Linked DNA regions of Homo sapiens. The protein of the gene in region 2 purifies or fractionates together with the protein of the main gene of each other region. This does not show direct contact. Each region holds a gene or a part of one and is shown on either strand. Other genes may lie near its edges. The genes, in order: SESTD1 and IRAK2.

Region 1 (15,955 bases), on a different chromosome or scaffold from region 2:
ATAGAAGCAAAAATTTACCATAAAAAATCTACATGAGATAGCCTATGTGTAAATATCAGTTCATCGGTGATCATACTGTTTGAGCAGGAAATTCAGCAGGAAAAACATTTTTTAAAATGGCATAAAATACATTAAGACATGATGAGAAAAATATATTGATGGTATAAAGGTTATATCATGTGTAGTTATGATAATAGCAACAAATTGAACAATGAAACACTGGAAATATGTGGGTCCAGAAGGATGCACAAACATAAAATTTATACAGGTACTTGAGTGCTACCGGCTGGGGACACCACTTGTCTATAGAGCTGGCAAGCAAAATAAATATTCTTTTTAATGTTATGACATTTTTTGGTACATTAACAGATAAAATTATTAATTTTATTCTACTCTCAAAGATACTGTATTCAGAATCACAGAATATTTTTAGAGCTGGAAGATTTCTTAGAAATTATCAGGTTAATCTCTTTATTTTTCAGATCAGAAAAGTGGAGCCTAGCAAGTTAAATGATGTAAGCAAGGTCACCCAGGGAAAAACCAGAATTTGAACCTAGGTCTTTGAGCAGTGAATCCAGAGAGACCATCAATCTCTTTTATTTTACCAGGAGAAGGTATAAAAGAGAAATCTGTCTAACCTGTCAAACAAACTATACATGGCATAAACAGATTACCATTATATTAATAATTATGGAAAACACTACACACAACTTTGGGAAATATTTAATTCAGCAAAATACCTAAAAGAGATATACATAAGTTTTAATATGAATATAAAGTGGAATAAAACAGCAATTCCAAAATATTAAAGGTGGGTGTGAACTTTGAATATATAGTACTAACATTCTTTTATCTTAAAAGGATGGATGAGGAAATGACACATGGACTATCTGTGAAACACAGACGAGAAGCTGAAGCAAGCATACCAGGGAGAGGTGTTCCTAGGCTGACATGGGTAGAACAGGAGACTGACTGTGTGACAACTGGCTGTGAAATGTAGGAATCAGGGAGGGTAAGGGATCCTGGAATGGAACAACCAGAAGCACGCCTGTAATTCTGCTACTAGCTGAATTTTGTTGTCTTTTATTGCAGATGTGTAATACAACTTTAGGTGACTTTAGGCTACCTCTGATTGTTCAAGTTTAGGTGGGGCTTGAGATAACGTAAGTATAGACTATGAATAATATTATTTCAAGGGAATAAAATGCCATCTTTTCAATATCAATCCCAAATAATCACTGGAAGATCATGGCACAGTAGTAGCAGTGCTTATTATGTGTCAGATCTGTTTTAAGTACTTTATACTTATTTAGCTCAGGTAATTCCCACACCCCCATAACCTGAGGAAGGTATGAGTGTTACATGGCAGTTTTTAGATGAGGGAATTGAGGCACAAAGGTTAAGTGGCTTGCCCAAGGTGTTACAGTGAGTAAGTGGTAGAGCTGAGACCTCTGGCTCCAGAGTGCACAGACTCATCACACTATACCACAACGTTAAAGGTACTTGTATTTTTATTTACTGGTTTGGTTACTCTATCATTTGAATTAAATATCCTCTGGATTATCTCTAAATTATTTTCAGTAAGAATCAGGTCTAAATCACCAGGGATGAAGCTCCTCCTGATTCTTTTTTTTTTTTTTTTTTGAGACGGAGTCTTGCTCTGTCACCCAGGCTGGAGCGCAGTGGCGTGATCTCGGCTCACTGCAAGCTCCGCCTCCCAGGTTCATGCCATTTTCCTGCCTCAGCCTCCCGAGTAGCTGGGACTACAGGCACCCGCCACCACGCCCAGCTAATTTTTTGTCTTTTTAGTAGAGATGGGTTTTCACCGTGTTAGCCAGGATGGTCTCCATCTCCTGACCTTGTGATCCGCCCGCTTTGGCCTCCCAAACTGCTGGGATTACAGGCGTGAGCCACCACGCCCGGCTGAAGCTCTTCCTGATTCTTTTCCTGATCCATTTATTTTGCATCAGATTATTTCATATTTTTATCACTATTTGAAATGGAAAGGTGTAAGATAATCAGGACCCCATTCCTTCACACATAAAGAAATTAGAACGCCATATAACACAGTACAAAGGGAATGGGTTTGGAGCCACACAGACATACCTGAGATTGTAAGTTTATGCTAACTCTTAGAAGCTGTGAAATCCTGAGAGCCTTACTTAATCTCTGTGGGCCTCAGTTTCTTCATTTGTAAATCAGGAATAATCATACTGGTTTGGTCCTCTTTGGTCAAAAGTAATGAAGGTGAAATGTTTCACTTGGTACTTGGCATATATTGTGAACTCACTAAACATCAATCCCTTGTCCCCTCTTCCTTTTCCTGAATGAAGCCCCAAGTCACACTATTCCCCACCATCATAGCCAAGGCTAGAACCCAGTGTCTTAATCTAGTCAATGATCATTCTACAACAAGCTGTCAAGAAGTAACGCATCTGTTGTTGGCAAGTACCATTACTGTGGCTAAGAGGTGTGGATTTCTTTTCATTTTAAACTAATTCATCGTAGGAGTTAAAGATGTGGACCAAACCTAATTTACTTGGCTTTTTAAAGAATAGATTTCCTCTTTTAATGATTTCACTTTAAGACCACACCAATAAAAAATAAAATTATAAGAACATGCCCCATACCCATCAGGATAAACTACTGGAACAGTTAATCTATCCAAAAGTGATTTCCCAACTGCTTCAATTTCATCAAATTGCTCCTCATCATTAATAGCTTCAGGCTCTTCTGGACAGTCCTGCAAAATCTGCAACAAATAAAAGAGCAACATCAATCAAGAGACACAGACAGGTCTGCAGTTTCAGAGGATCACCCCACCCCACAAAAAAAAAGAGAGAAAAGAAAGACACAGAAATGGAATCAAGCTCATACAAATTTGGTAGATTAAAGGCATTTTCTTGTTCTTAGCATCTTCAGGTATACCACTATATAAGATTGATCTATTATTGGCAAAATTCTTCAAGAAATTCAAACAAACAAAATGAAATACATAATTCCTACTAACAATATGGTGATTTCCAAGAAAGAAAATAACTAGACTACTATTTGGAAAATAAGTTCAATCTGTCCTTAAGAAGTATTCTTTCATTTATATTAAGTAACCATTTATTGAACAGTTTATGTTTATGTAGCAGTCTGGAAGGTGAAGGAGGTATAGACTGTGTTCTCAAAGAGCATATAGACATTACAAATGAAAAATTATATAAATAAAAAACAACAAAGAGTACAAATAAATAACTGATGTGACAACTCAGCTAGATGATAATATTTAACAACTGATCTGCTGGCTTGAGTTAACTGCCATAAAATGATTAGGTTATAATTCAAATATGGTAATCTCTATAGTCCTTGATGAGATACTGTTCTTCACTCCACCCTAACCATTACCATTTAAATTAAACCACAAGAACTGCAAAATTTGAGAGAGAGAATAAAAAGTATTCATTTTTACAACTTTTTTTTGCATTACACTTTATCTAATCATGTTTACTTCAGCATTACTCATGAACGGACATTTTTGTATTTTAAAACTCAAGATTTAATTTAGATATTTTTCTAATCATTATACTATACAATTTGCTTATAGTTGTGGTTATTTATATTTATGCTTATGGTATAAAATAGAATACAGTCAAGAGGAAAGTAATATCTGATAACAAAGGGCTTTACTTAGGTTTGTACAACAAGCTCCAGGAGGTGGAGCCTGCAGTGAGCTGAGATCATGCCACTGCACTCCAGCCTGGGCAACAGAGTGAGACTCTGTCTCAAAAAAAAAAAAAAAAGTTATCAGTGGTGCTAGACATTGGGCCAATTGTCACCCTTTGACAGTGAGGTGATTGGGGGAGCAGTACTGTGATTACACAGGGTGGGGGGAGCTTCTGGGTGCTGGTAATGTTCTGTTTTTTTTGAACAGTACACTGAGTACACAGGTGTGTTCACTTTATGAAATCTCACTGCACAGAATACTTGTGGTATGTTTTCTATGTTAATAGTATACTTCATAATAATAAAAAATTCTCATTGAAACAATCAGTAGATAAACAAGTTACACTATTTTGTATACTTCCACTTATCATCATTAGGCCCATGTTAATCAAACACTGATCTACGGAGTTCAATGACCAGCTGAGAATGAGTTAACTATGGACCCTTCCCAACAGATGTACTTCATAACTCAGATAGAAACTTTAATTCCTGAGGTTCCTTGCAACATCTGTTCCATGGATCAAGTTAGGTTTGCTAATATCTCAAAGTGTATCGAACATTCCCTACATATAAACTTTTATTGTAAGAGATCAAAACAAAATTAACTACATAATAAAGTTCCTTTTCAGAATGGATATGTAAGGCTTGGGTAGAATAAATTCTTACTATGAAGAGTAAGAAAAAAGTTCTATTGAAAATGTGTCCAAATAACCCTGCATATTTTATTTTTTGTTTCTGAAATTAATGACCTTAATTCATTGAATAATAAATTCTAGAATGAATCTTTAAAGAACACATATAAAAAAGCATTTTACTTTTGTCCTTATTCTTATTTTTTTAATGTCCCGACTTTATAAAATCACAAGGTGCCTTTTAAAAAATGTGTGACAATTAATAGCAGTTGCCAAAGCAAAAAGTTTCCCTTCCAGGCATAACGAAAGAGATTGAACTCATGATACTCTAAAGAACAGAGGGCATATTCTGGACACCAGGCTTGGTGAGGAGAGAAGTGTAAAGAGAAGAAGACTACCAGGTGGTTCTGGATTTCTCCAATCATGGCTCTCCAGCACTGGTAAGGATTAAGGAAATTTAATTTGAACTCTCTAAGGCAATGTATTATATCTAAACAAACCGTAACAACGGAACTAATATAAATATTGAAAAATAGATTAGTCATATAGTTACATTACTAAAATTAACATATTTTAAACACATATAATCAATACCACTGAGAATAACATTTCAAAAACACAAGCAAACCTTTTCAGCATTTGAGTGAAATGCAATAGCCATTTCCAATCTATGTACTCTCTCTTCAGATGCTATTGTAAATTGTTTCCATACTCTGTTCAGTCGAGGAAGTGTATCCCCAGATGACCGAGAAGTGCAGCGCAAAGATTGGCATAACACAACTGTGGCCTGTAGCAACTGCCTGCCATAGTCATAAGTGCTCTAAAAAAGAAAAGGAAACATAAAATTGTAATAAAAGAATTCTTAAGAGAAGGATGGGGAAAGTGTGCAGGAAGATTGTCGTTACAGTTAAGTGACACTACTAGAAATCAATACTGAATAAATCTAGTGGCACTTATTACTACAAATCATCTGTGTGTATAAGTAATAAAGGGGAAGCTATGTTTTTGTTAGTTTATAATAAGTTTCATGGCCAGGCACAGTGATTCATGCCTGTAATCCCAGCACTTTGGGAGGCTGAGGTGGGTGGATTGCTTGAAGTTAGGAGTTCAAGACCAGCCTGGCCAACATAGCAAGATCCTATCTCTAAAAAAATGAAAAAAATTAGTTGAGTTTGGCCACACTTGCCTGTAGTCCTAGCTACCTTGGAGGCTGAGGCAGGAGGATCACTTCAGCCCAGGAGTTTGAGGATGCAGTGCGCTATGATTGTGCTGAAACATCATATCCTAATTGACAGAGCAAGGCCTTGTCTCAAAAAAACAAAAATTGTTTTAAAATTTTTAATTAGAAAAAAGTCTCCTTCTGTTAGGCTTCCCCACTTTATTCTGTTTCCCCCATCGCAGTCTGCTTAAATTTCACTGGCCAGAAAGAATGTCTGCTTATGAATTAATCAAAACTACTTTCAAAAGTAGGTGAAATTAGGCACTTTATATTCCATATAGGAAACTACATCTGTTAAAACGTGAACTCATTATTAGGGAAAATAAGATACTTTTTGGCTTGGCGCGGTGGCTCACTCCTGTAATCCCAGCACTTTGGGAGGCCGAGGCGGGTGGATCGCTTGAGGTCAGGAGTTTAAGACCAGCCTGGCCAACATGGTGAAACCCCATCTCTACTAAAAAGACAAAAACTAGCCAGGCGTGGTGGCCGGTGCCTGTAATCCCAGCTACGCAGGTGGCTGAGGCATGAGAATCGCCTGAACCTGGGAGGCAGAGGTTGCAGTGAGCTGAGATTGCATCATTGCAGTCCAGCCTGGGCAACAGAGGAAGACTGTGTCTTAAAAAAAAAAAAAAAGACACTTTTCACCACAAAAAAGTTCTGTATTATTATGCTAACACTAGTGTGATGCAGAAAGTGAGGTTTCTTATTTACTGATATTAACATCCATTTCATATTAACTTCTGTGGATGAACAGTTGGATTGCCTTAAAAATGCCGTAATACATAGCATAAATCAGAGGGACCATGCAGAACATGTATTCAGGGAAACGTAAACCCTCTCAAGTTTATGCAGGCTAGTTTTGATGCACCAGCTGACATTTTCTTAATTCTGTGACACTTCTGGAATAACAAAACTAACCTTCTTGTACTTGGAAGGTAAAGTTACATTATAATCATGCAGAAAGCTATTCAAACACTGAGCTTGTGGAAAAGGAAGATAACCAGTTTTGCACCTGTGCAACATCAACAAATTTTCTATGCTTTTCCAGCAAAACTTTCGTTTCTTGAGCATCATCGCCCAATCTGATGTGAGTCTTAAGCAGAGCATCCAGAAGTTCACTTAGCCATTCTACTGCCTAAACAAAAAGACATAACAATGAAGCTGGATTCAGAACTCTTTACTTATTGTATCAAAATGTCATTTATACAGAGATTACTATCATGTGATTAATAAATCCGTTAATTATAACCTAAAGTCTTAAAAGCTTATTTCATTCAATGATAAGCTACATGAATTAATGACCTGTCCTACTCCTCAAAATTCTTTAAATCTGAAGGCAAGACATACTGAAGAAAAGCATTCTTTTAAAATTAATATCACATAATAAAAGATCATGTATTTCTGTATGTAGATCCATCAGGATTGCATTACAGATTTGTGTTACTACATAAAATCAAAAATTTTATCTATATCTAACTGAAATGATGTTCTCTGATGATAACGACAAAATATATCAAATTGTTTATCTGGTATTGAAATTTCTCTTGCAGATGCAAGAGAGCAAAATGCAGTGTGCTCCACCAGATTTTATCCTGGATGTAACTGACAACCTAATCAACAATAATAAATAATAAACGATCCCAATCTCTAGCTCAATAGAGGATTATAGAGGATTTCATTGAGAAAATTAAGTTAAATGAGATCAATCAACTAGCTGGGAATACCAAAGTGTATTCTTCAACAAGATAGATAAACTAGAACCTGACTTCAAGAATTTACTTTTTTAGGACCATGAAAAGTACACTTTTGTTTGTAGTTAGATAAAATCAATCTTCTAAGAAAAGTTAACTACATAATGTAGCTGACTGCTCCTTACCTGGGCAGCATCTTCTTCACATTTAAACAACTGCACCATCTGAAGCATCTTTAACCTTCGCACATCTACCATGTCTTCACATCTAATGAACCCAAACATAAATTTAACTCATCATTTCTGTTTTATTGATTACTATTGTAACATCATCATTTGGTACATGTATTTTATAGTACACTAAAATACTTAGTCCTAAACAATGGAGAATGCAAGTATTTTGTATTGATTTGTAAGAATTTTAGGGATATTTATATCAATGTTACATCAAAACATCAAAATACCCAAATGATACTCAATGACAAACCCTCTTAAAGATAGCATGGATTCTGCAAAATATTAAAGCAAAATGTAAGGACAATAGTACACTAAAACCCAAAAAAAATCTCCATTGCTGTTTAGCATCAAACAAGTTTCAAGGATAAAAGTGTAATGTTTCTCAAATACAGGATGATATTTTTTTGAGACAAGGTCTCACTCAAGCACCTAGGCTGGAGTGCAGTGGTACCATCATAGCTCACTATAACCTCAAACTCCTGGGCTTAAATGATCTTCACATCCCAGCCTCCCAAGTAGCTAAGACTACAGGTGTGCATCACTATGCCCAGCTAAAGAAACATTTAAACATTAACGCTTTTCATTATATTATAGTACCTAAAATAATATTTAATTCTGATTTTTTTTAAAACCCTCCATCTACATTCTTAAAAACTAGATGGAGGGCTTAAAAAAACAAAAAAACTCTACTGACCTCTGGGTGTAGAGAAACACAATTCAAATTATTTTTTTAATCTCATTGTGGTCTTTTTGGATAATATAACCATTTAAATTTTTAAGGCAACTTAACCTAACTTAACTCTGGTCCATTTCCTTCATTTCCATGAAATTCTGCGTACTGCAGGTGGGATGGGGGACTCCCACTGCAGTCTCAAATACCGATAATATGTTACCAGACACTGTGCTCTACTATACTTGATGTCCTTAAAGAAAGCTTAATAACAATATAGAAGTAGGTATCACAAGGCTTTTTTTTAAAAAAAAATAAAGATGCTCTGAATAAAAGCTATAACATGACATTAAAATTCAACTTGGTTAAAGTAATTCTACAATGGACTGAAGGGAAGTGATAATTATTTTTTAAATATGAAACTAAAAAACAATGTAGGCCACTTTGATGAAGATGGTATCATACATATACTGTATTCAGGTATTAGATAATGTGTGCTGGGGAAAATATAAGATATGGTCTCTACTATCAAGATGCTCCCATTTGCAGAGATGTTATAAGTACTATTATAAAGCTATTTAAAATGTTTTATGAGAGTAGGGAGGAGCAAGTGACTAACTTGCCTTAGAAGTCCAAAAAGGCTTCCTAAAGTAAAGTAAGTATCCCTGAGTCTTGAAGAGTAAGTAGGAATTCACTGAGCAGAAAACAAGGAAACAAGTATTCTTAGTCATGGATGCATGAAACAGCATGATGCTTTCAGGGAGATAAAAACAACTGTGTGATTTTATGGGAATGTTATAGAAGATAAAATTATGCAAGAATTGGATTATGAAGGGTCTCCTACATTATTCCAAGAAGACAAACTCCATCTGAGCAAACAGGAAGTCACTGAAGGAAGTTTTACACAATTGTTGTACTTTATGAAAATTACACTTATATACAAAAAGCTGGAGAGTAGCCAGGCCAGAGGCAGATAAGAGTTTAAGATCTTGACCATAAATGTTTGAGATTCAGAGACAGCAGAACCTGGACATTTGATTAAGCTATAAGGGATGAGAAAGATGAAGGATTTTAGGATAAATCTCAAGTTTGGTAGCTGATGGTAACTTTAACCTAGGCAGGAAATTAAAAAAGGAGAGCAAGTTTTAGAGGAAAATGATTCCAGTCTGGACATACTAGGTGATCTGGTTTGGATCTGGGTTTTGGATTTGTGTCCCCACTTAAATCTAACATCAAAGTGTAATCCCAATATTGGAGGAGGAGCCTGGTGGGATGTGATTAGATGCCTCCCCTTCCACCACGATTCTGTTTCCTGAGGCCTCTCCAGCCCTGCAAAGCTGTGAGTCAATTAAACTTCTTTCCTTTATAAATTATCCTGTCTTAGGTATAGCAGCGTGAGAATGGACTAATAAATACAAGGGGCCTGGTGGGAGATGACTGGATCATGGGGGCACATATCCCCCTTGCTGTTTTCATGTCAGTAAGTGAGTTCTCATGAGATCTGGTTGTTTAAAAGTGTGCCGCACCTCCCCCTTCACTCTTTTCCTCTTTCTCCATCCAAGTAAGATGTGTCTGTTTCCCCTTCACCTTCCATCATGAGTGGAAGTTTCCTGAGGTTTCCCCAGCCATACTTCCTGTACAGCCTGTGGGACTGTGAGCCCATTAAGCCTCTTTTCTTTAAAAATTACCCAGTCTCGGCCGGGTGCGGTGGCTCACGCCTGTGATCCCAGCACCTTGGGAAGCCAAAGTGGGCGGATCACGAGGTCAGGAGTTTGAAACCAGCCTGGCTGACATGGTGAAACACCGTCTCTACTAAAAATACAAAAATTAGCCGGGTGCAGTGGCACCCGCCTATAGTCCCAGCTACTCGGAAGGCTGAGGCAGAAGAATCGCTTGAACCCAGGAGGTGGATGTTGCAGTGAGCCTTGATCATACCACTGCACTCCAGCCTAGTGACAGAGCGAGACTCTGTTTCAAAAAAAAAAGAAAAGAAAAGAAAAATTACCCAGTCTCAGGTAGTTTTTTATAGCAATGCAAGAATGGACTAATACACTAGATTTCAGCAGTACATGGGGCATCCCGCAGGCGACACTAAGTAGGCAATTGGAATTATGGGTCTACAGCACGGGAGAGCTGTAACTACTAAACCATGATCTATTAAAGAAAGTAATTCAAGTAGTGAGAATGTCCAGGGAGAATATATAAAGAAGGGAATCTGGCCTCAGAACAAACCCTGGAAGCAGTAACTTTAGCTAGTGGCCAAGAAATCAGTGACAAAAACCAAGAAGAAACAGAGAAGGATCATAAATGTGTTTTCAAGAAAGATGAAATCGAAAAGTCAGTTGTGCCTAACGCTAATCACAGTTAAGCAAGTCAAGACTAAAAGTATTCTCTGAACTTTAAGTAAGATACAGCATTTATTACGTTGGTAATGCTGGTAAGAGCAACACTGAATGAAATAGTTAGGGTAGAAGTCAGACTGAAAAGAGTTGAAAATAAATTGGAGGTAGTGGGGGAAGTAGTATGAATGTACCGTAAACCTATCCAAATGACTTAGCTGTGAGGAAGAGTTCTAATGCTAAAAGACAAAGAGTTGAAGAGGAAGACGTACCCATATGTGTGATTATTATTTTTAAAACAGGAGAAATTTAAGCATTTAAGTGAGGGCAGGAACCAGAGTAGAGAATGGGATTTGATGGAGTTAGGAGTCAGGAGGGTGATCAGAATCAGAGCCTAAATGGAAGCTCAGCTTTGATATTTTTTGATATAAACGGAGAGCTCTATCATCCTCTGTGGTGACAGAATAAAAGTAAGTTTGCAGATATGAGGGAAGAAATTTCTGCCTCATGACTGTTTTCTCTGTGATGCAGAAGGAAGCTTTCTGTGAAGTTTTGTTGATGATCATAAAATTTTTAAGTGTGCAAAATTTCATATAACCATGCTAGATTGTGTATATTGCATAATTTTAATCCTTTACTTTGCAATACTTTGTAGTTGCTATTGCAAACTGAGTTTTCAAAGAATCTTTTGAATTCCTAGTTTTATAGAAAATGAAACTAAACATCACTAGTCCACTGTTTAATCCTCCTACAGCAAATATGAGAACAATGAATGTGTGACATTCTGTAAGTTTAGATGAAGAAACAGATCAATGTAGATGACAAGTTTAATGGCAACTCTAAACTAAATGAAATTTAAAAAGCAAAATTATTCTTCAGTAAGTTTTTTTTAAAGCAGAAGAGTCATAGACTACACTGGGGATATGGAATTTGAAATAGTTGAGTATAATTGAAATTTTTACAACCCAATAAAAAGGAAAATGGTACCTAATAATTGAATAAATTATTACTATGTTAGTAAAATTATATACAGTAATTATCACATTCACCAAAAACCTACTACATGTCTTCTATATAACAGTTAAGAACGTTTTGTCTGTATATAAAATGTTATATAACTTCATTTTAACTAATATTGTTATTATTTTAGTAAAAAGTAATTAACGGTCAAACTTTGCCTTTGTTTTCTAAGCTGCATATCTTCCATCACTCCTTGTATGTGGTCCACATTTTCTTTATTTTCAATGGTTACATCCTTTCCATAGGCCCAGGATGCCTGATTGGAGATCTGATCCAGGAGACCTTGACCTTTTTCACGCAAACCTTGCAATCCCACATCTAAAACAAAAGTTACTAGATTTAATCTCTTACACAACTAAGGCGCTTTCCCTCCCTCAAACAAATCGTCTCATCAGATATTGTACCTGGATCCCAAGTATAGGAGCTTTGTACAGTAAACCACCTTGGGATGGAATCCCAAGACTCCATCCTATGAACATTTCAAGCAATAAAACCCTTTAAATGTAACTCGAATTGGAGCTCTCTCTCATGCCAAATTCTCCCTAAAGGGAATTTTGAAAACATGGGTTTCCATAGACAATAATTACTTTTAAAAAATGAAAGCAGAAGAAAAATATGAAAATTCCTATTTCTAATAGAAAACAATTTTCTGTTTTTTCTTCCTGCTTTTATGCTGTCCAACTTATAGGAGAACAAGGCAAACATGTTGTTTAAAAAAGCGCATAAGCCTTGCAAAATTTTAAGACACTCCAGCAATGTATCATCAATGTCAAAGGATGTTGAACATTGTGACTAAAGATACAGTCTAGCTTCTATACCATAGGAAGCAACAATTAGGGTATATTTACAATTCTCCAAATTACATGTGTAAAGGAACTTTTTTTTTTTAAACAAAGACTGTGGCTCAAGAAAACTAATATTTTAAAAGAAAATTCATTTGTCATATTAAACACTAAATATGTATTATGCATACCATCTGTTAAAATAACAGAGGCTGGCCAGGTGCGCTGGCTCATGCCTGTAATCCCAGCACTTTGGGAGGCTGAGGTGGGCAGATCACCAGAGGTCAGGAGCTCGAGACCAGCCTGGCCAACATGGCAAAACCCCATGTCTACTATAACTACCAATACAAAAATTAGCCGGGCGTGGTGGCAGGTGCCTGTAATCCCAGCTACTTAGGAAGCTGAGGCAGGAGAATCACTTGAATCGGGGAGGCAGAGGTTGCAGTGAGCCAAGATGGCACCACTGCACTCCAGCCTGGGCAACACAGCAAGACTCCATCTCAAAAAAATAAAATAACAAAGGCTGTAAGCAAGTAAAATGTCAGTACAAGTGTGATTTTTCAAACCAATTCCCTAAGGCAGTTTTCAATAATTTGGTTTAGTCATGTGCAACCACTTTTTACTAGTTCTCTGCCTTAAGTTCCTGTTTCCTCTCTTCCATTGCCATTTCCCCTTTTGTCCCCCCTTGATACGACTCCCCACCTTCCCATTGTCACATCCTGACCTTTTAGGAAAGTTCACTGTGCTTCCTGCTGTAGAAAAATTCTAAAGGCCTTGATGTCAAATGACATCAAGCCTACATCAGCTTAATGTAACTGGACCCCTTAATGTAAATGTACCCCACTCCTTGGAGAATGGGTAATCTGACAATATTCCCAGTTTGGTGAGACAAGAACCAAAAAACCAAACCAACTATTTTTTCACAAGGTTAGGATAAAGCAACAACAAAAATCATTGCATAAAACACAATTTTGGGCATACAGGATTTACCACAGAACATTTCACAGCTAATTACAGTTCATGCATGCACTACAAATAATTGTTCATAGTATATGCAAGACACAGCACCTGTAGATATAGCTGGGTAAACAGGCAAGGGTAAAGGCCCAGTGAAGGGAGGAGTGACTAACTAACGATGAAAAATAAAATTTTCAGCATAAATTATAACCCCTCAAGGGAATAAAATCTTTTTATACTATTTTTCTGTTTCCTGAAAATAATACTAATTAGTTCAGTGTAAGTTGACTTAATTGTCTAACCATGGTAATGATATTTAAAAAAAAAAAAACCTTATGTTTCAGCATTTTTAAAATCTGCTTACCAACACTTTTCAGCTTCTCTTCAAGCAGTTTTAAAGTTTGCTGAATCGATGCTCCATCAGCTGGTGCTACATCTACGCACAACATCCCTAATAAGCCATCCAACTGCTGAGACAACTAAAGCAGAGGGACACCAAAGAGATAACCCTGATGTAATCAGCATCTAAAGTGTTTAATGATTAATGAGGTTTATATCTAATGAGGTTATCACAATTACACTTGAAAAGACTACACTGTTACAAGACAAGGACGAATCATTAGAATATGCATTATCTGGAAGACAGAACACACAGATGCATGCACCAGGAAGACAAAGAAGTACATTCAGGTCAGCAGAATGCAAAAAAGTATTGAGACTTCCATTTCCATCTAAGTTATAAAGCATAAACATTGAGAAGGAGTCAAAATAAAATATTCTACTAGATTGGAACACTCTAGTTAGACAATAAAAGGTTGAATTGCATGCAGAATGACTTAAAAAATACTTGTTTTTAAAAAAAATCAAAGAATTTTATCTCATTACCCCCACCAGTAATTCATTTTATTGGTTCAGAAAAATAATTTAGGAGGCATGCAAACCTGAAAAAAATTACGTGTAGGTAAGTGTTCAGATAATTTGAAGAAAAGAAAAGAATCAGAATAGACACTTACATCTTGGGCAACACCATGAAATTCAAGAGCTGCTTGTAAGAGATTTTGCCTAAATTCCAGCTGACTGGCCTGTCGATAACAAACATCACTAAGTTGTTGCTGCAGTGACTTTAGTTCCACAAGATCTTCCTCATCGCCAGCATTCAAGAGTGCTGCAATTTGCTGATTAAGTTCCACATACACTGCAAACCATTCCTGTAATCAAGATGTTACAAAGTAAACTAAGGCTCAAATTAGTTCCTGGAAGAGATTACATTTTATAATTTCTCCAGATAAACTAAGTAATACATGATTTTTTTTTTCTAAGGCAAAATTATTAAAATTGAGGGTGGAAAGTTCCTAATCCTGTGATCCCTGGAACTCAATCCCTGACCTCTAAATGTTCTCTTCTCTTCCTTGCTCTAAGTGAAACCTGTCCGCCCTCAGTCACCCCTGCAGCCTTCTCAACTGATTACTGTTTCCATGTCTGACATACTGCAAGCCTGAAGGTGGGTTTGGGTGCCTCGTTCCTCACTACTTGCAGACCATTTATTTTCCCTCTTCTTTCAAAAAACCGTATCCCCTTTGAAGTGCATGCTGTTAGATTACATCTTTTCAGCTTTCTGTGTGGTATCACCTCATCCACAGAAGGGTTTAGCAAAGGTCACACTGCCTTCCTCTCAGCATCAGCCTTCTTAGTGACTTCCACTACATAGGCACCCACCACCATCCTGAACCTCCAGTTCCTTGACTCCCTCCCTCACCTCCAACTAACTTGTCCTCACCTCAACTCAGCTACCTCTTCCACTGGCCATAAAAACGTGTCATCATATACTACTATGTAGCTCCAAAAATCTGTTTCATGAAACCCATTTTCTGACCACCTATTGACTCTCCCATTCACCTCTGTTTGTAGGCTCACACCTACAATCCCATGGAATCCACCAATCTACTGACCTCTCTACCATCCAGCACATGAGAACCTCTGTCCTCACTTCCATCCTTGATCAAAGGCTATAACCACCTCCCAGCATATAACCCATGCCCCTGCCTGGCTTTCTTTCCTTCCATCAGAATGACCTGTTGAAACCTGAGATCTGTTTTCTCTGCCTAATGTGTGCCTGTACCAGAGTAGCCGAACATGGGTAGACTAAAAACAACTAGGTGGATAGCGCTCTCTCTCTTTTCCCTCACATCAGAAGGGTAACGTGCTGATGTTGTTACAAGGCTTAGAGGGAGACACATCTCAGATGAGTGTGAGCACCCATCATCATGCTTATAAACTACAAAAGGATTGACAGATCTCTTTTTAAAGTTATGACTAAATAATCTCAAATGAGTCTTTGGCAATCCTTTTATGTTTCTCTAGTAAATTCACTTTCTCATTCTCATGATCATTTATGTTTTTTTCACTATCAGTCTCCAATTCCCTTTTCACTTCTTCATTCTCAGCCAAAGATCTTAATTCACTGGGAAGTAATCGGAAAACTCTTTCATCTTCCCACCAACAAATCCCCAACCCTCCGTTCTTCTACAGCCCTATGCTCTGCCCTCAGAGCTGTAATAATCAGCCGCCTGTCTCTTCTTCTAAGGCCAACCACTCCACTTGTGCATTACAGCCTATCTCTGTTGCCTACACAAAGCTTTGCTCTCACAGTTATCTTCTCTGTCTCCCATCAGTTCTTCTGTCTCAACTGGATTATTTC
Region 2 (16,136 bases):
AAAAGACTGGTAAACATTTTTCACTGAGTTCTGTTAGCCACTCCAGCAAATTAAACCCAAAGCGAAGGTGGTGGGAACCCCAACTTGAAGCTGGTTGGTCAGAAGTTCTGGAGCCCTAAACTTGCTACTGGTGTGTGGGTGGGGGCAGTCTTGGGGACTGAGGCCTCAACCTGCAGGATCTGATATTATTTCCAGAAAGATGGTGTTGGAAGTGAATTAGAGGATACCTAATTGGTGTTCACTGCAGAATTGATTGCTTGCTCGCTCTCGGGAAGAAATCTACACATTTGGACACGAAAGTGTTCTGGGTTGGTATTGTGTTAGTGTGGAATCTAGAGGAAAAACAGTTTTTCTGAAACAGAAAGGTAAATGAATTTCGCCTTTAGACTTGGGTCCCATCCTCAAGATACCTCATATATATGCACATATTCCAAAATACAAAAAAATCTGAAATTGGAAACACCTCTGGTCCCAAGCATTTCCAATGAGGGACATTCAACTTGTTCCCCTTTCTTTCGGCACACCTAAACTGCCTGCCCCAACAAAACATTTTCTTGTCCCCACCCCTTACCACACATACCCAGTAGTCCATTGGCAGGTCACAGAAAATTGAGGTACACGTATTATGGTCATGAGAAGGATTGGGCAGTAGCACTCAATGTATGAGAGGGAGAAAAACCCACAAAACTTATTTCAAAATTCAAAACATGAAACCGCAGGAAAATATAAGTCTGTTTGACATACAAACTAATGGCAGTAATCTCTCTCCCTGTCTGTCAGAAGGAAAAACACGAAAGATTGTTTCGTTCCAATTGGGAAAAGTTGAATCCTGGGGGCCTGGAGCTGGCCCCACAGATGCTGATAACAGAGCTGAGGTTACTGAAAGGCTTGGGGGAAGTCCTGTTGAACCATTTCATCTTAACATAAGTTGGAGGAGACTTAATTGGGCAAAGGACAGTTTAGCAATTTGCTTGATGGGGAGTGACATGAGTTGATGGATCTTCCCTTGTAGGAGGGTGTTCATTACCTAGGCCCAACCCAAGAATTTTGAGAACTCTTGTTGTAGCTATTCCATGCTCAGAAACCTCTGATAGGAACTGTGGTAAGGGCTCGTATTAGTCTGTTCTCATGCTGTTATGAAGGAATACCCAAGACTGTGTAATTAATAAAGAAAAGAGGTTTAATTGACACAGTTGCTCACAGCTGGGGAGGCCTCAGGAAACTTAACAATCATGGTGGAAGGCACCTCTTCACAGGGCAGCAGGAGAGAGAATGAATGCCAGCAGGGGAAATGGCAGATGCTTATAAAACCATTAGATCTCATGAAAACTCTGTCACCATTGGCCAGACGTGGTGGCTCACGCCTGTAGTCCCAGCACTTTGGGAGGCCGAGGTGGGTGGATCACAAGGTCAGGAGTTCACGACCAGCCTGGCCAAGGTGGTGAAACCCTGTCTCTACTAAAAATACAAAAATTAGCCAGGCGTGGTGGCGGGTGCCTGTAATCCCAGCTACTCGGGAGACTGAGGCAGAGAATTATTTGAACCTGGGAGGCGGAGCTTGCAGTGAGCCAAGGTTGTGCCACTGCACTCCAGCCTGGGCGATAGAGTAAGACTCCGTCTCAAAAAAAAAAAAAAAAAAGAAAACTCTGTCACCATCATGAGAACAGCCTGGGGAAAATTACCTCCCATGATTTGATTAAACCCTCCCATGATATATGGGGATTACAATTCAAGATGAGATCTGGGGGGGACACAGCCAAACCGTATCAGGGCTGTTCCAGCAGGTCTGGATTACCCTGGCGTGGAGCAACTCCAAGCAGTAGGGAGGATTTTGAGAAGGTCTAGTGTGCCTCTGGGGCAGCTGTTTTCCAAATACTCGTTTATACTTGGCAGCCTCCAGGATTTCCACCCCCCTGATAGATGCAGAAAGCAGATCCCTCTGGAACAGACTCCAGTATTGGAAATAAATGTACATGTATGGGAGATTGCCCAAATTAAGTATGGCACTCCTAAATAAGCCATTAAAAAGGATAGGGGGCCAGGCGCTGTGGCTCACACCTGCAATATCAGCGCTTTGGGAGGCTGAGGCTAGAGAATCACTGGAGGAGAGTTTGAGACCAGCCTTGGCAACATAGTGAGACCTCCGTCTCTACCAAAAAAAAAAAAAAAAAAAAGGTAAAAAGAATAGGATAGGATAGAGGTTTACTCATCTTTCTGAGAGAGAAAGAGTAGCCACTTTTTTTTTTTTTTAATTTTTTTCTTGAGAGAGAATCTCATTGTGTTGCTGAGGCTGGAGTGCAGTGGCGTTAGCTCACTGCAACCTCCACCTCCTGGGTTCAAGCAATTCTCCTGCCTCAGCCTCCTGAGTAGCTGGGATTACAGGTGCACGCCACCATGCCTGTCTAATTTTTAATATTTTTCGTAGAGACAGGGTTTCACCATGTTGGCCGGCTGGTCTCGAACTCCTGACTTCAAGTGATCTGCTCGCCTTGGCCTCACAAAGTGCTGGGATTACAGGCATGAGCCACCACACCTGGCTGAAATTTTTATTTTTTAAATTATAATAGAGACAGGGTCTTGTCATGTTGCCCAGGCTGCTCTTGAACACCTGGGCTCAGGCAGTCCTCCCGCCTTGGCCTCCCAAAGTGCTGAGATTATAGATAGGCATGCACCACCACACCTGGCCTTATGTTTGTTTTTCTTAAAATTTTTTTTGTTTGTTTCTGTTTTTTTGTTTGTGCTTTTTTTTGCCTTTTTTCTTTTTTTTTTTCTTTCTTTCTTTCTTTTTTTTTTTTTTTTTGAGACAGCGTCTCACTTTGTCACCCAGGCTGGAGTGCAGTGGCGCTATCTGGGCTCACTGCAAGCCCCACCTCCTGGATTCACGCCATTCTCCTGCTTCAGCCTCCCGAGTAGCTGGGACTACAGGCGCCCGCCACCACGCCCGGCTAATTTTTTTGTATTTTTTAGTAGAGACGGGGTTTCATCGTGTTAGCCAGGATGGTCTCGATCTCCTGACCTCGTGATCCGCCCGCCTCTGCCTCCCAAAGTGCTGGGATTACAGGCGTGAGCCACCGCGCCCGGCCTCCTTTTCTTTTTTTTTGAGACAGAGTGTTGCTCTTGTCGCCCAAGCTGGAGTACAATGGCAGGATCTTGGCTCACTGCAACCTCCGCCTCTGGGTTCAAGTGATTCTCCTACCTCAGCCTCCCGAGTAGCTGGGATTACAGGCATGCGCCACCACGCCCAGCTAATTTTGTATTTTTAGTAGAGATAGGATTTCTCCATGTTGGTCAGGCTGGTCTTGAACTCCTGATCTCAGGTGATTCGCCTGCCTCGGCCTCCCAAAATGCTGGGATTACAGGTGTGAGCCACTACACGCAGCCATTTTTTAACAGAGATGGGGTCTCACTATGTTGTCCAGGCTGGGCTCCTGGGCTCAGGCAGTCCTCTCTCCTTGGCCTTCCAAAGTGTTTGGATTACAGGAATGAGCCATGGCACCCAGCCCATCACAATTTTAGATGTTCATCTTTGCTCCAGAAAATCTAGTTTTAGGAATTTACCTTAAGAAAGAAAAAACAAGTGTGAATAGATGTATGTATATGAAGTTTGCTGCAGTATTATTTAGAATAGCATAATACTGGAAATAAAAGTATACTGATAGGAGTTTGGGCACATATAGTATGGTGTTCCTAAATAAGCCATTAAAAGGGAAATAGTACTATGCTCATATAATGACAGGAAAAGCTATTAATTGAAAAAAAAACAGAAAATTAAATGTTAAAAAAATTTTTTTTTCACCATAGTGTCTGCAAAAAAGAAAATATGTTTAAAAAATTGGCCAGTCACGGTGGTTCACGCCTGTAATCTCAGCACTTCGGAAGTCCGAGGTGGGCAGATCACGAGGTCAAGAGATCAAGACCATCCTGGCCAACGTGGTGAAACCCCGTCTCTACTAAAAATACAAAAAACTAGCCAGGTGTGGTGGCATGCGCCTGTAGTCCCAGCTACCTGGGAGGCTAAGGCAGGAGAATCACTTGAACCCGGTAGGCGGAGGTTGCAGTGAGCCGAGATTTCGCCACTGCACTCCAGCCTGGTGACAGAGTGAGACTCCTTCTCAAAAAAAAAAAAAAATCATTTTGTATAGGACTAAAAACATGTAAAAGGAGTATATACTCCAAACAATAATGGTGATTCCTCAGGGATGAGGTTATGGGAAGGTGTTTGTTTTCTCTTTCTTTCTGTCTTTGACAAATATCACATGCTATCAGAGAAACCAATAAAGATATTTTTGTTAAAAAAAAATATAGCCGGGCGCGGTGGCTCATGCCTGTAATCCCAGCACTTTGGGAGGCCGAGGTGGGTGGATCACCTGAGGTCAGGAGTTTGAGACCAGCCTGACCAACATGGAGAAACCTCGTATCTACTCAAAATACAAAATTAGCTGGGTGTGGTGGCACATGCCTGTAACCCCAGCTACTCAGGAGGCTGAGGCAGGAGAATTGCTTGAACCCAGGAGGCAGGGGTTGCGGTTAGCCAAGATCACACCAGTGCACTCCAGCCTGGGCAACAAGAGCAAAACTCCGTCTCAAAAAGAGAGAAAAAAAAAGAAAAATATATGCAAAGTGCATAGAGAAGCTTTATTATTCTCCTTTCATCAGTCTTCCCTCCTGCTCCAGCTTTTTTTTTTTTTTTTTTTTTTTTTTTGATATGGAGTCTCACTGTGTCCCCCAGTCTGGAGTGCAGTGGTATGATCTTGGCTCAGTGCAGTCTCCACCTCCCGGGTTCAAATGATTCTCCTGCCTCAGCCTCCCAAGTAGCTGGGATTACAGGTGCGTGCCATCACGCCCAGCGAATTTTTTTGTATTTTTAGTAGAAACGGGGTTCCGCCGTGTTGGTTGGGCTGGTCTCGAACTCCTGACCTCAAGTGATCCACCCACCTCGGTCTCCCAAAGTGCTGGGATTGCAGGCATGAGCCACCATGCTTGGCCTCTGCCCCAGCTTTCTGATATGACTGGTTCTCAACTGTGCCAGCACATATTAGAATTATCTGGGAAGCTTTAAAAAACAGTAGTGCCTGAGCCCCACTCCAGAATAATTGAATCTGTCTCCCTGGAGGTAGGGCTAGGCATTTATACTTTTTAAAAGCACCCCAGATGTTTCTACTGTGCAGCCAGGGTTGCAAACCACTGACTATAATTTCAAGGGAATTAAACTTGAACAGCTCAAAATGACGTAAGTGTGTAATTAATTACATTCAGCCTCAATAACTGTTTCTAACTGATCCTGGTGGGTGTTGGTCATGGAAAATAGCCAGAGGAAGAAATTAACTGCAAGATCAGAGGAAATTTCTTGTGGTGAGGCAGTATAACACAGCAGAAAGAGCATTTGCTTTGGGTCAGACTTGAGTTGCATCCTGTTGATGCGGGACAGGCAAGCCCCCAAATTGGGGTTTAGCCTGGGAGGGTTCTTAGCTTCACCCAGAAAGGAATTCCAGGGCCAGCCAGTGGTGTTAAATAGCACCTTTTATTGAAATAGCAGTGTGCAGCCGCAGCAGAGGTACTGCTCCTTGCAGGGTAGGGCTACTCCATAGGCAGTGTGCCCAGAGTAGTGGCTCAGAGGCAGTTCTACAGTCACATTTATACACACTTTTAATTATATGCAAATTAAGGGGCAGTTTATGCAGAACATTCTAGAAAGGGGCGGTGACTTCTTGGAGTCGCCATGGCAATGGTAAACTGACAAGGTACACTGGTGGCAGTGTCTTATGCGAGGTACTTCCCACCACACCTGTTTTAGCTAGTCCTCAATTTGGTCCGATGTCCCAGCCATTCCTTTCGAGTCGAGTGCTGCCCCCTACCTCACTGTCACTTGGCCAACTTGGCCCAGTTACAATTGACTTCAGCCTCAGTTTCTTCATCTGTAAAACAGAAACAATAAACCTTTGCAGGGTTGTATGGATTACAGATAATGTATGCTAAATGCCTGCTAGGTGAGTTGGTAGGTGAAGGGCAACCATTAGTAATAGCAAAGACCTTACTTTGAAGAACTTATTCTAAAGAGTGGTAACTGAGATGTGTCCCTGTGATGACCTGCTCAGGCCCAAAATGACTCAAGCTTCTCTGGAAGACAGAATCCTAGGACACAGATCCCAAGCCCTGAGGCTGGGGTGAGAAGGAATTGCGGGAAGGGCCTGAGGATGCAGCAGAGAGAGCAGTGGGGGCTCCTCTGCCTTCCAGGATTGACCAAGGCTGAATGTGAAACTTCCGTGGTCTTAAAGCCTCACCCCAGGGAAGAGGCCCTGTGGCACTGAGGGAGGAGCTCTACACACACGCTGCTTGCGGAAGAGAAGGAGAAGCAGGTAGGGGACTCTGCAAAAAGAGAAAAGGAGAAAAAGAAGAGGATCTTTATTCTCTTTTACCCCCGTGTGCCTGGGATGGAGATGCTTCTCCACCCAGCCTATGGCAAACAATCATTACAGTTCCCAAGTCCACCTTCAGCCACTGCTGAAAACACAGGACTTCACTTGAAAAGTAGTCTCAGAACACTGAAATATGTCCCACTTTCAACATCAAGGAGGACATAATAGTAATCCTTTACTGGGCTCAGCACTTCACAGTTGATCTTGAGCGTTTTGGAGTCCATTTAGGCTTCATAACAATCCTTCCAAGTGGCTGCAGCAGGAGATCCAGTTTCCAAAAGGGAAAACAGAACTGGCTCAAAGGACTAAGAGCCGGAGAGTGGCTGAACCAGGTCTCCAAACTTGATAGGACTCCAAGGCCAGTGGGTGCCTTTTCAAGACCACTAATGACAGCTACCATTTTTTGGGCACATTCTCTGTGCGAGGAAAGCCCTGTAGTAGGTGTTCTATATAGGCTACATAATTTGATTTATTCCACTCCCCTCACAACTCTAAGCAGTAGGAAGGAGCAGGCCCACTTTACAGATGCTGGAAACAAGGCTTGACGAATGAAATGAGTTGTCCAGAGTCACAAAGCCTGTTGGTGGCAGAACTGCAACTTGGCCCTAGGACTTCTCACTTTGATTTCAGCTTCCTCCTTTTGCAGCGCTACTCCATAGCTGACGGCCACAGCTATACAGTGGTACCTACTCTAGTTACTTATCTGCCCTTCGTGACCTCGCCTAACCTCTTGGAATCTATTTACTTCTGTGTAAAATGGGGATAATAATATCTATAGTATAGGCTTGTAAGAATGACATAAGATCATTTTTGCAAAGTACATTGTAGATACAGATAAATGTATCTGTATCTACAATATACTTTAGCCAGTGGTGATGGAGAGCCTGGGGTCAGAATACTTAGGTTCAAATGATTTTAGCCATATTATTTAACCTCTCTGTGCCTTAGTTTCCTTATTTGTAGAATGGGGCTATAACCATACCTACCTCAGAGGGTCATTGTAAGGAGTAAGTAAAGTAACCCAGGTGAAGGCTACACATAGTAAGTGCTCAATAAATACTAGCTATTTTATATATGTGTGTGTGTATTTTATATATATATATATATATATATATATATATATATATGTATACACACACTATAAATTCTGTTCCTTGTACCCTCTTTGTTTATTTAGAGACAGGGTCTCACTCTCACCCAGGCTGGAGTGCAGTGGTGCAATCTTGGCTCACTGCAATCTCCACCTCCTGGGCTCAAGTGATCCCCCTACCTTAGCCTCCCAAGTACCTGGGACTACAGGCACATGCCACCATGCCTGGCTAATTTTTGTAGAGACAGGGTCTTGCTCTGTTTCCCAGGCTGGTCTCGAATTCCTGGGCTCAAGCGATCTGCCTGCCTCTGCCTCCCAAAGTGCTGGGGTTATAGGTGGGAGCCGCCGCACCCAGCCCCTTATACCCTATTTAATAATCCAGTTTGTCCTGCAGTCCCCTGCACCATACTCTGCTTTTTTCCCAGTAATAGTATCATCTAAGATAATGCAATTGGCCACTTGCACTCCCTTTTACCACCCTCTACTTTTATTCTTTCTTTTCTTTCTTTTTTTTTTTTTTTTTTTCAGAGACAGGGTCTCATTCTGTCACTCAGGCTGCAGTGCAGTCATAGCTCACTGCAGCCTCAAACTCCTGGGTTCAAGAGATCCTACCACCTTAGCCTCCTGAGTAGCTGGGACTATAGGTGTACACTACCATGCTTGGCTCATTTTAAAATTTTTTGTAGAGGCCAGGCGTGGTGGCTCATGCCTGTAATCCTAGCACTTTGGGAGGCCGAGGCAGGCGGATCACGAGGTCAGGAGTTCAAGACCATCCTGGCCAACACAGTGAAACCCTGTCTCTACTAAAAATACAAAAATTAGCTGGGCGTGGTGGCGCGTGCCTGTAATCCCAGCTACTCGGGAGACTGAGGCAGGAGAATTGCTTGAACCGGGACCTGGGAGGCAGAGGCTGCAGTGAGCCAAGATTGCGCCACTGCACTCCAGCCTGGGCTACAGAGCAAGACTCCGTCTCAAAAAAAAAAAGTTTTTTGTAGAGATAAGATCTTCCTATGTTGCCCAGGCTTCTACTTTCATTCTCCAACATAGCTTATCTGCCTATTTTTATTGCTTGTTGTCTGTCTCCCTCCAGGACAAGGATTTTGTCCTTCTCTTCAGAGGTATTCCCAGCACCTACAACAGTGCCTGGCACATAGTAGCTGCACGATACATATTAGCTACTATAGTAAAGTCTACCTGACTACCCTATTTAATAGAATATTCCCCATGCTCAATCTGAATTCCTGATTCCCTTTAACCAACTTTTTTTCCTTTTTTTTTTTTTTTGCAATAGTGCTTATTACCTTTAAGACACTCTGTAACATACTATATTTATTATTTATTGTTAGTCTTTCTCTCCACACCTAGATTGTAAGTCTTATGAAAGCAAGGGCTTTTGTAGGCTTTTTTTTTTTTTTTTTTTTTTTTTTGAGACAGAGCCTCACTCTTCACCCAGGCTGGAGTACAAGGGCACAATCTGGGCTTACTGCAACCTCCGCCTCCAGGGTTCAAGCGATTCTTCTGCCTCAGCCTCCCAGGTAGCTGGGACTACAGGCGTGCGCCACCGTGCCCGGCTAATTTTTGTATTTTTAGTAGTGACGGGGTTTCACCATATTGGCCAGGCTAGTCTCGAACTCCTGACCTCGTGATCCGTCCGCCTCGGCCTCCCAAAGTACTGGGATTACAGGAGTGATCCACCGCGCCCGGCTGTAGGGTTTCTTATTCAGGTATTACCAACACCTAGGGAGTTGCCTGGCATACAGTAGGTAATTAATGGAGTATTTGATGAGCGCATGATGCATGGTGTAGTGCCGATGGAAGTGGGGTCAGAAGGCCTCCTGCCGCTGCGGCAGAATTCCCGTGTGGCCTTCTCCCACCAGGGCCTCAGTTTCCCCTCGCAGTTCCGATTCTCTGGCCGGCGCTGGGGTGGAGCCGGCGGGGCCGTCGTGCCGCCCGTGGCCGCTGGGGACGCTGGTGCCCTCCCGCCCCGCCCACTTCCCCGCCGGTCCGCCCCTGGCTAGAGAAGCCGCAGCCCGCAGTGTCCGACCCAGTCGTCCCGCGCCGGAGCCGGCCCCGTAGCGTGCCATGGCCTGCTACATCTACCAGCTGCCCTCCTGGGTGCTGGACGACCTGTGCCGCAACATGGACGCGCTCAGCGAGTGGGACTGGATGGAGTTCGGTGAGTGCGGCCCGGGGAGGGGAGGGGACCAGGGCGACCGGAGCCCCCAGCGATCCCGCCTGGAGCGGCCGCCAAGCTCCCTCGGGCACCCGGGTTCAGCGGGTCCCGATCCGAGGGCGTGCGAGCTGAGCCTCCTGGACCGGGTCCGCCGCGGACCTCGGCCTGTCACCTGAAGGTGCCGCGTGGTCTCTGAGGACGTCTGTCGACGAGCAGGGGCCGCCGCCACTGCGCTCTGAGTCCAGAGAACGGTGGGTACGGGGGCCCTCCTGTCAGCGCTGCTGGCTCGGTGACGTCCCCAGGTGGCCTCTCATCCAGCCCACAACAGCCTGCAAAGTGCGAGCCTCGACCCTGTAGGGACCCACGGTGCTGTCACTTCTTGGGGGGGTGTGTGTGTGTGTGTGTGTGGTGTGTTTAGTTTTAGTGTATATTAGAAGGATCTATGATTTAACATATATATATATATTGAAACGGAGTTTCGCTGTTGTTGCCCAGGCTGGAGTGCAATGGCACGGTCTCGGCTCACTGCAACCTCCACCTCTGGGATTCAAGCGATTTTCCTGCCTCGGCCTCCCGAGTAGCTGGGATTACAGGCGCCCGCTACCACCCTGGCTAATTTTTTGTATTTTCAGTAGAGACCGGGTTTCACCATGTTGGCCAGACTGGTCTTGAACTATTTTTTTTTTTTTTTTTTTTTTTTTTTAAGACGGAGTCTCACTCTGTCGCCCAGGCTGGAGTGCAGTGGCGCGATCTAGGCTCGTTGCAAGCTCCGCCTCCCGGGTTCACGCCATTCTCCTGCCTCAGCCTTCTGAGTAGCTGGGACTACAGGCGCCCGCCACCACGCCCGGCTAACTTTGTATTCTTAGTAGAGACGGGGTTTCACCGTGTTAGCCAGGATGGTCTGGATCTCCTGACCTTGTGATCCGCCCACCCTGGGCCTCCCAAAGTGCTGGGATTACAGGCATGAGCCACCGCGCCCGGCCTCCGGAACTCTTGATCTCAGGCGATCCACCTGCTTCGGCCTCCCAAAGTGCTGGGATTACAGGCGTGAGCCACTGTGCCCAGCCTATTTATCATATTTGTGATTAAATGTACTTTACCATTATAGTTTTAAAATCAGATATTTACTTTTAGTGTACATTGTTTTGATCACAGTATTTATGACTATCAACCTGTTTTGAGATCAGATGTGTCCTAATAGATTCAGTGTGTATAATGGGGCCTAAGCACAAGCACTTACTTTCACTCTATTGCAAGGTGCACAGTTCTAGATAATTCCGTGGGAAGGCACTCAGACAGCCTCCATATGTTTTGTTTGTTGGTGCCTGACGGATGACTGGCGGAGAGGGCCATGGACTCTGCGGGGAGGCCGCTTGCCTGTTGTCTCTGCTTTCCAGGTGGAGATCTGCATTCCAGGCTCTTGCTGTATGACTTTGGGCCAGTTTGTTAACCTCTCTGAGCCTCAGCTTCTGAATCTGTATGTAAACTGGAGATGATAATTATAGCTTCTTCATAAAGTTGTGAGGAATGAAAATACTGTATAAAAGCACTGACACCTAAGTGTTAAATATTCTTATAAGTCATAAGTTGTAATATTCTCTTTTCATTTTTATTTTTTTGAGACAGTCTCATTCTGTGGCCCAGGCTGGAATGCAGTGGCGAGATCTCGGCTCACTGCAGCTTCCGCCTCTTGGATTCAAGTGATTCTCTTGCCTCAGCCTCCCGAGTAGCTGGGATTACAGGCATGTGCCACCACGCCCACTAATTTTTATGTTTTTAGTAGAGATGGGGTTTCGCCATGTTGGCCAGGCTGGTCTCGAACTCCTGACCTCATGTGATTTGGCCGCTTTGGCCTCCCAAAGTGCTGGGATTACAGGCGTGAGCCACTGCTCCTGGACCTGGCTTCACTACTTTGAATGTTTCCTGGGCAGTGAACAAACTTTGTGTGAGACTCCCTCTCATTTTTTCCACATTGGCCCAGCCCTCAGTTACAAATGCCAGAACAACTTCTGTTTCTAGGAAATTCAATTAGAAGGCATACCTATGACTTAAAAAAAAAATAAAGCTTTACTGAGATATTCACATACCATACAATCCACCTGTTTCAGGAGTACAATTTAGTGGTATTTAGTATATTCACAGGGCTGTGTATCCATCTTCACAATCAATCTTAGAACATTTTAATCACCCGAAGAAGAAACTCTGTACCCGTTAACTTCCAATCCCCTCCTTCCATTTTCCTGAGTTTTAGACATTGCCTATTTTGGACATTTCATATAAATGGAATCATATAATATATAGTGCTCTGTGACTGACTTGTTTCAACTAACATGAGGTTCATCCATGTTGTAGCATGCGTCAATACTTAGTTTCTTTTTTTTTTTTTTGAGACGGAGTCTCGCTTTGTCACCCAGGCTGGAGTGCAGTGGCGCAATCTCGGCTCACTGCAAGCTCCACCTCCTGGGTTCATGCCATTCTCCTGCTTCAGCCTCCCTAGCAGCTTGGACTACAGGTGCCTGCCACCATGCCCGGCTAATTTTTTTGTATTTTTAGTAGAGATGGGGTTTCACTGTGTTAGCCAGGATGGTCTTGATCTCCTGACCGTGTAATCCACCTACCTCGGCTTCCCAAAGTGCTGGGATTACAGGCGTGAGCCACCGCGCCCAGCCAGTTTCTTTTTATTGTAGGATAATGTTCCATGGTATGGATATACTACATTTCATTCATTTATCAGTTGTTGGGCATTGGGTTCTTTTCACTTTTGGGCCATTGTGAATAGTGCTGCTGTGAACACTCACATACAAGATTTTGTGCAGTGGTGCAAATGTAGCTCACCGCAGCCCCAACTTCCTGGGCTCAAGCGATCTTCCTGTCTCCTGAGTAGCTGGACTACAGGTGTGCACTGCTGCACCCAGCTAACTTTTGTATTTTTTGTAGAGACAGGTTTCACCATGTTACTCAGGCTGATCTTGAACTCTGGAGCTCAAGCGATCTGCCCATCTCACCTTCCCAAATTGCTGGGATTACAGGTGTGAGCCACTGCATCTGGCTTTATGTTTAACTATTTGAGGAGCTACCAGATGTTTTCTAAAGTGGCTGAACCACCAGTGTATGAGGATGACCATTTCTCCACATCCTTGTCAACATGTGTTATTTTTTTCTTTTTTTAATTTTTTTTTTTTTGAGACAGAGTCTCGCTCTGTCGCTGAGGCTGGAGTGCAGTGGCATGATCTCGGCTCGCTGCAACCTTAGCCTCCTGGGTTCAAGCGATTCTTGTGCCTCAGCCTCCCAAGTAGCTGGGATTACAGGCATGCACCACCGTGCCTGACTAATTTTTGTATCTTCAGTAGAGACAGGGTTTCACCGTGTTGGCCAGGCTGGTCTCAAACTCCTAACCTCAGGTGATCTGCCCGCCTCGGCCTCCCAAAGTGCTGGGATTACAGGTGTGAGCACCATGTCCGGCCTTATTGTTGCTTTTTTGATGGTAGCCACCTGAGCCAGTGTGAAGTGGCATCTTACTGTGGTTTGATTTGCATTTCCCTAATGACTAATGCTGTGGAGCATCTTTTCCTGTGCTTGTTGGCCATTTGCACATCTTCTTTGGAGAATACCTCTGCGAGGCTCCCCACTGGGATGGATATGATCTGAACACCTTGCCAGGCATGTTGACTCTGACACATCTGCCCAGTGCTGGCCTCTCTGACCTCCTCTTCTTCCACACCCACTGTCACTCCCCTGCTCCAGCCACACTGACCTCCCTGGGCCAGACACAGGGTCTTTGCAGGTGCTGTTCCCTCTGCCTGGGACGTTCTTCCCCCTGTGTTACCTGGGGCTAGCTTTCTAGTCTATTAGTTTCCTCCTGTTGCAGTTATAGATTACTACAATATCAGGGGAACCAGCCCGCAGTATTTCAATGTAGGTTCTTTTCTATTTTCCCTAAGTGTCGGCCGGTCTGAGAAATAAAGAGTACAAAGAGAGAAATTTTACATCTAGGCCTCTGGGGGTGCTGTTACACATTGGTAGGACCGTGATGGTGACCCCGAGCCACAAAACCAGCGAGTTTTTATTAGGGATTTCAAAAGGGGAGGGGTGTACGAATAGGGAGTAGGTCCCAGAGATCACATTCTTCAAAGGGCAATAAAAGATCACAAGGCAAAGGTGAAATTAGAATTACTGGTGAAGGTCCATGTCCCACTGGGCACGCATTGTCTTGATAAACATCTTAACAGGAAACAGGGTTGGAGAGCAGACAACCCGTCTGACTAGAATTCACCAGGCTGGAATTTCCCAATCCTAGTAAGCCTGAGGGCACTGCAGGAGACCAGGGCATATTTCATCCCTTATCTCAACTGCATCAGACAGACACCCCCAGAGTGGCCATTTATAGACCTACCCCGGGAATGCGTTCCTTCCCCAGGGTTATCAATTATTAATATTCCTTGCTGGGAAAAGAATTCAGCGATATTTCTCCTACTCACACGTCCATCTATAGGCTCTCTGTGAGAAGAAAAATATGGCTCTATTCTGCCCGACCCCACAGGCAGTCAGACCTTATGGTTATCTTCCCTTGTTCCCTGAACATCACTGTTATTCTGTTCTTTTTCAGGGTGCCCTGATTTCATATTGTTTAAACACCCACGTTTTACAATCAGATTTCATATTTTTCAAACACACGTTTTACAAACAATTTATACAGTTAATGCAATCATCACAGGGTCCTGAGGTGACATACATCCTCAGCTTATGAAAATGATGGGATTAAGAGATTAAAGACAGGCATAGGAAATTATAAGAGTATAAATGTCCATAAAATCTTCACAATTTATGTTCAGAGATTGCAGTAAAGACAGACGTAAGAAATTATAAAAGTATTAATTTTGGGAACTGATAAATGTCCATGAAATCTTCACAAGTTGTATTCTTCTGCCGTGGCTTCAGCCGGTCCTGTTCGGGGCCCCTGACTTCCCACAACACTACAAAGTTGGTGGCCTGTAACACCTCAAGTTTATTATCTCAGCATTCTGGAGGTCAGAAGTCCTAACTCAGGGTGGCTCTAGGGAGGAGTCGGTCTCCTGGCCTTGACTGGCTTCCTGAGGCCTGCAGCATCCTGTGGCTTATGGCCCCTTCCTCCATCATCAAGGCCATGGGTGTGTATCATCACATCTGTCTCTGTGACTTCTGCTTCTACCATCACCTCATCTCTGAATCTGATGTTCTGGCCTCCCCCTTACAGGGACCCTGGTAATTACCTTGGCCAGACCCAGAGAATCCAGGATAATCTCATCTCAGAATCCTTGATTTAATCTAACCTGCAAAGTCCCTTTTGCTATGTAAGGTACCATATTCACAGGTCTCGGGGCTTAGGATGTGGATGTTTTCCAAGGGTATTATTCTGTCTGTCACAGTCCTTCAGGTAAGCTCCTGTGGCACCTCTTTGAAATCAAGAGGACTTTCCTGCCCCTGTTCCTCTCTAGCCCATCACCGTGTTTCATTTCCCTCATTCCGCTTCACAGCCTTTGATGTCCCCTCGTTCCTGAATTTTTTCCACCTGTCTCTCCCTATGGAATGGAAGCCCCGTGCGGGCAGGGGCCTTACCTGTCTAGTTTTTCACTGCTGTATTCCCAGAGCCTGGGACAGTGCCTGGCTAGAGGGCAGGTGCCAGAATGAATGATGAGCTGCCAGGCCTTGGTGTGGTGAGGATGCGGGCTGCCCACTCTTACCCATTGGAGCTGGCCTGGAGCCTTTGGTCAGCCCACTTCCTACACTGGATCAGAGCCAGCGGTGCCTCCGGCCCACTGCTCCTCGCCCAGTCCCAGTGCTCCAGTTCCCTCTTCAGCTGAATGAACGAGTGACTGTGATTGACCCTTCAGTCCTAAAAATTCTTGGCTTCCTGTGGGTCATTTTAGAAAGAAGACAGTCCCTCAGAGCTGATGGTGATACTGGGAGAGTGTAGTGAGAACGCTAAAGTGATTCAGAAGATCCCGCAGCCACAGACAGCCACGCTCTTTCAGATCCGACACTTGTTGGCAGATAATCTGGCCACGCCTAGTTCTTGTCTCCGTGATGGCAGCTGCCTCTGTTGGGCTTTGCCTGAGCCTGTGTAAAAAGGGTTTCCTACAGCTTCAGCCCCAGGTGTGTGCAGAGGGGCTCGGCGCAGGGGCTCTTCTGTGTGTGGCCGTTCCCCGTCTCGTTCACTCATGCGTGTGCCAGCCTTTGTGCACAGCCCTGCTTTGCCCTGCCCAGCTGTGTGACATCAGGCAGGTGACTATCTCTCTCTGAGCCTTTAGTTTCCTCATCCATGAAGCACCCTCACAGTGTTGCTGAGAGGCTTAGGAGACTCAGCTTATTGTAAAGGGTCAAGTTAGGGCTTTCCTCATCCCCCACCCAGGGAGGGGTGTGGGCATTCGATTCTAAGATGGGTCATTTCAGGAGGCTGTGCCATCCCTGCTGTGGAGGA

What was found.
Region 1: the proteins of IRAK2 (region 2) and SESTD1 purify together in Homo sapiens (affinity purification with mass spectrometry; 3 studies listed by BioGRID and IntAct, with this or other methods). This does not show direct contact.

What each region holds. Positions count from the first base shown.
Region 1 is NC_000002.12:179,110,094-179,126,048, forward strand, and holds part of SESTD1 (SEC14 domain and spectrin repeat-containing protein 1), read right to left. Parts: intron 15,545-15,955; exon of another isoform or gene 15,443-15,544; intron 14,466-15,442; coding exon 14,271-14,465; intron 13,737-14,270; coding exon 13,622-13,736; intron 11,837-13,621; coding exon 11,677-11,836; intron 7,521-11,676; coding exon 7,439-7,520; intron 6,698-7,438; coding exon 6,575-6,697; intron 5,164-6,574; coding exon 4,972-5,163; intron 2,753-4,971; coding exon 2,631-2,752; intron 1-2,630. UniProt on the Homo sapiens protein: May act as the primary docking protein directing membrane turnover and assembly of the transient receptor potential channels TRPC4 and TRPC5.
Region 2 is NC_000003.12:10,155,367-10,171,502, forward strand, and holds the start of IRAK2 (interleukin-1 receptor-associated kinase-like 2), read left to right. Parts: upstream 1-9,552; 5' UTR 9,553-9,588; coding exon 9,589-9,682; intron 9,683-16,136. UniProt on the Homo sapiens protein: Binds to the IL-1 type I receptor following IL-1 engagement, triggering intracellular signaling cascades leading to transcriptional up-regulation and mRNA stabilization.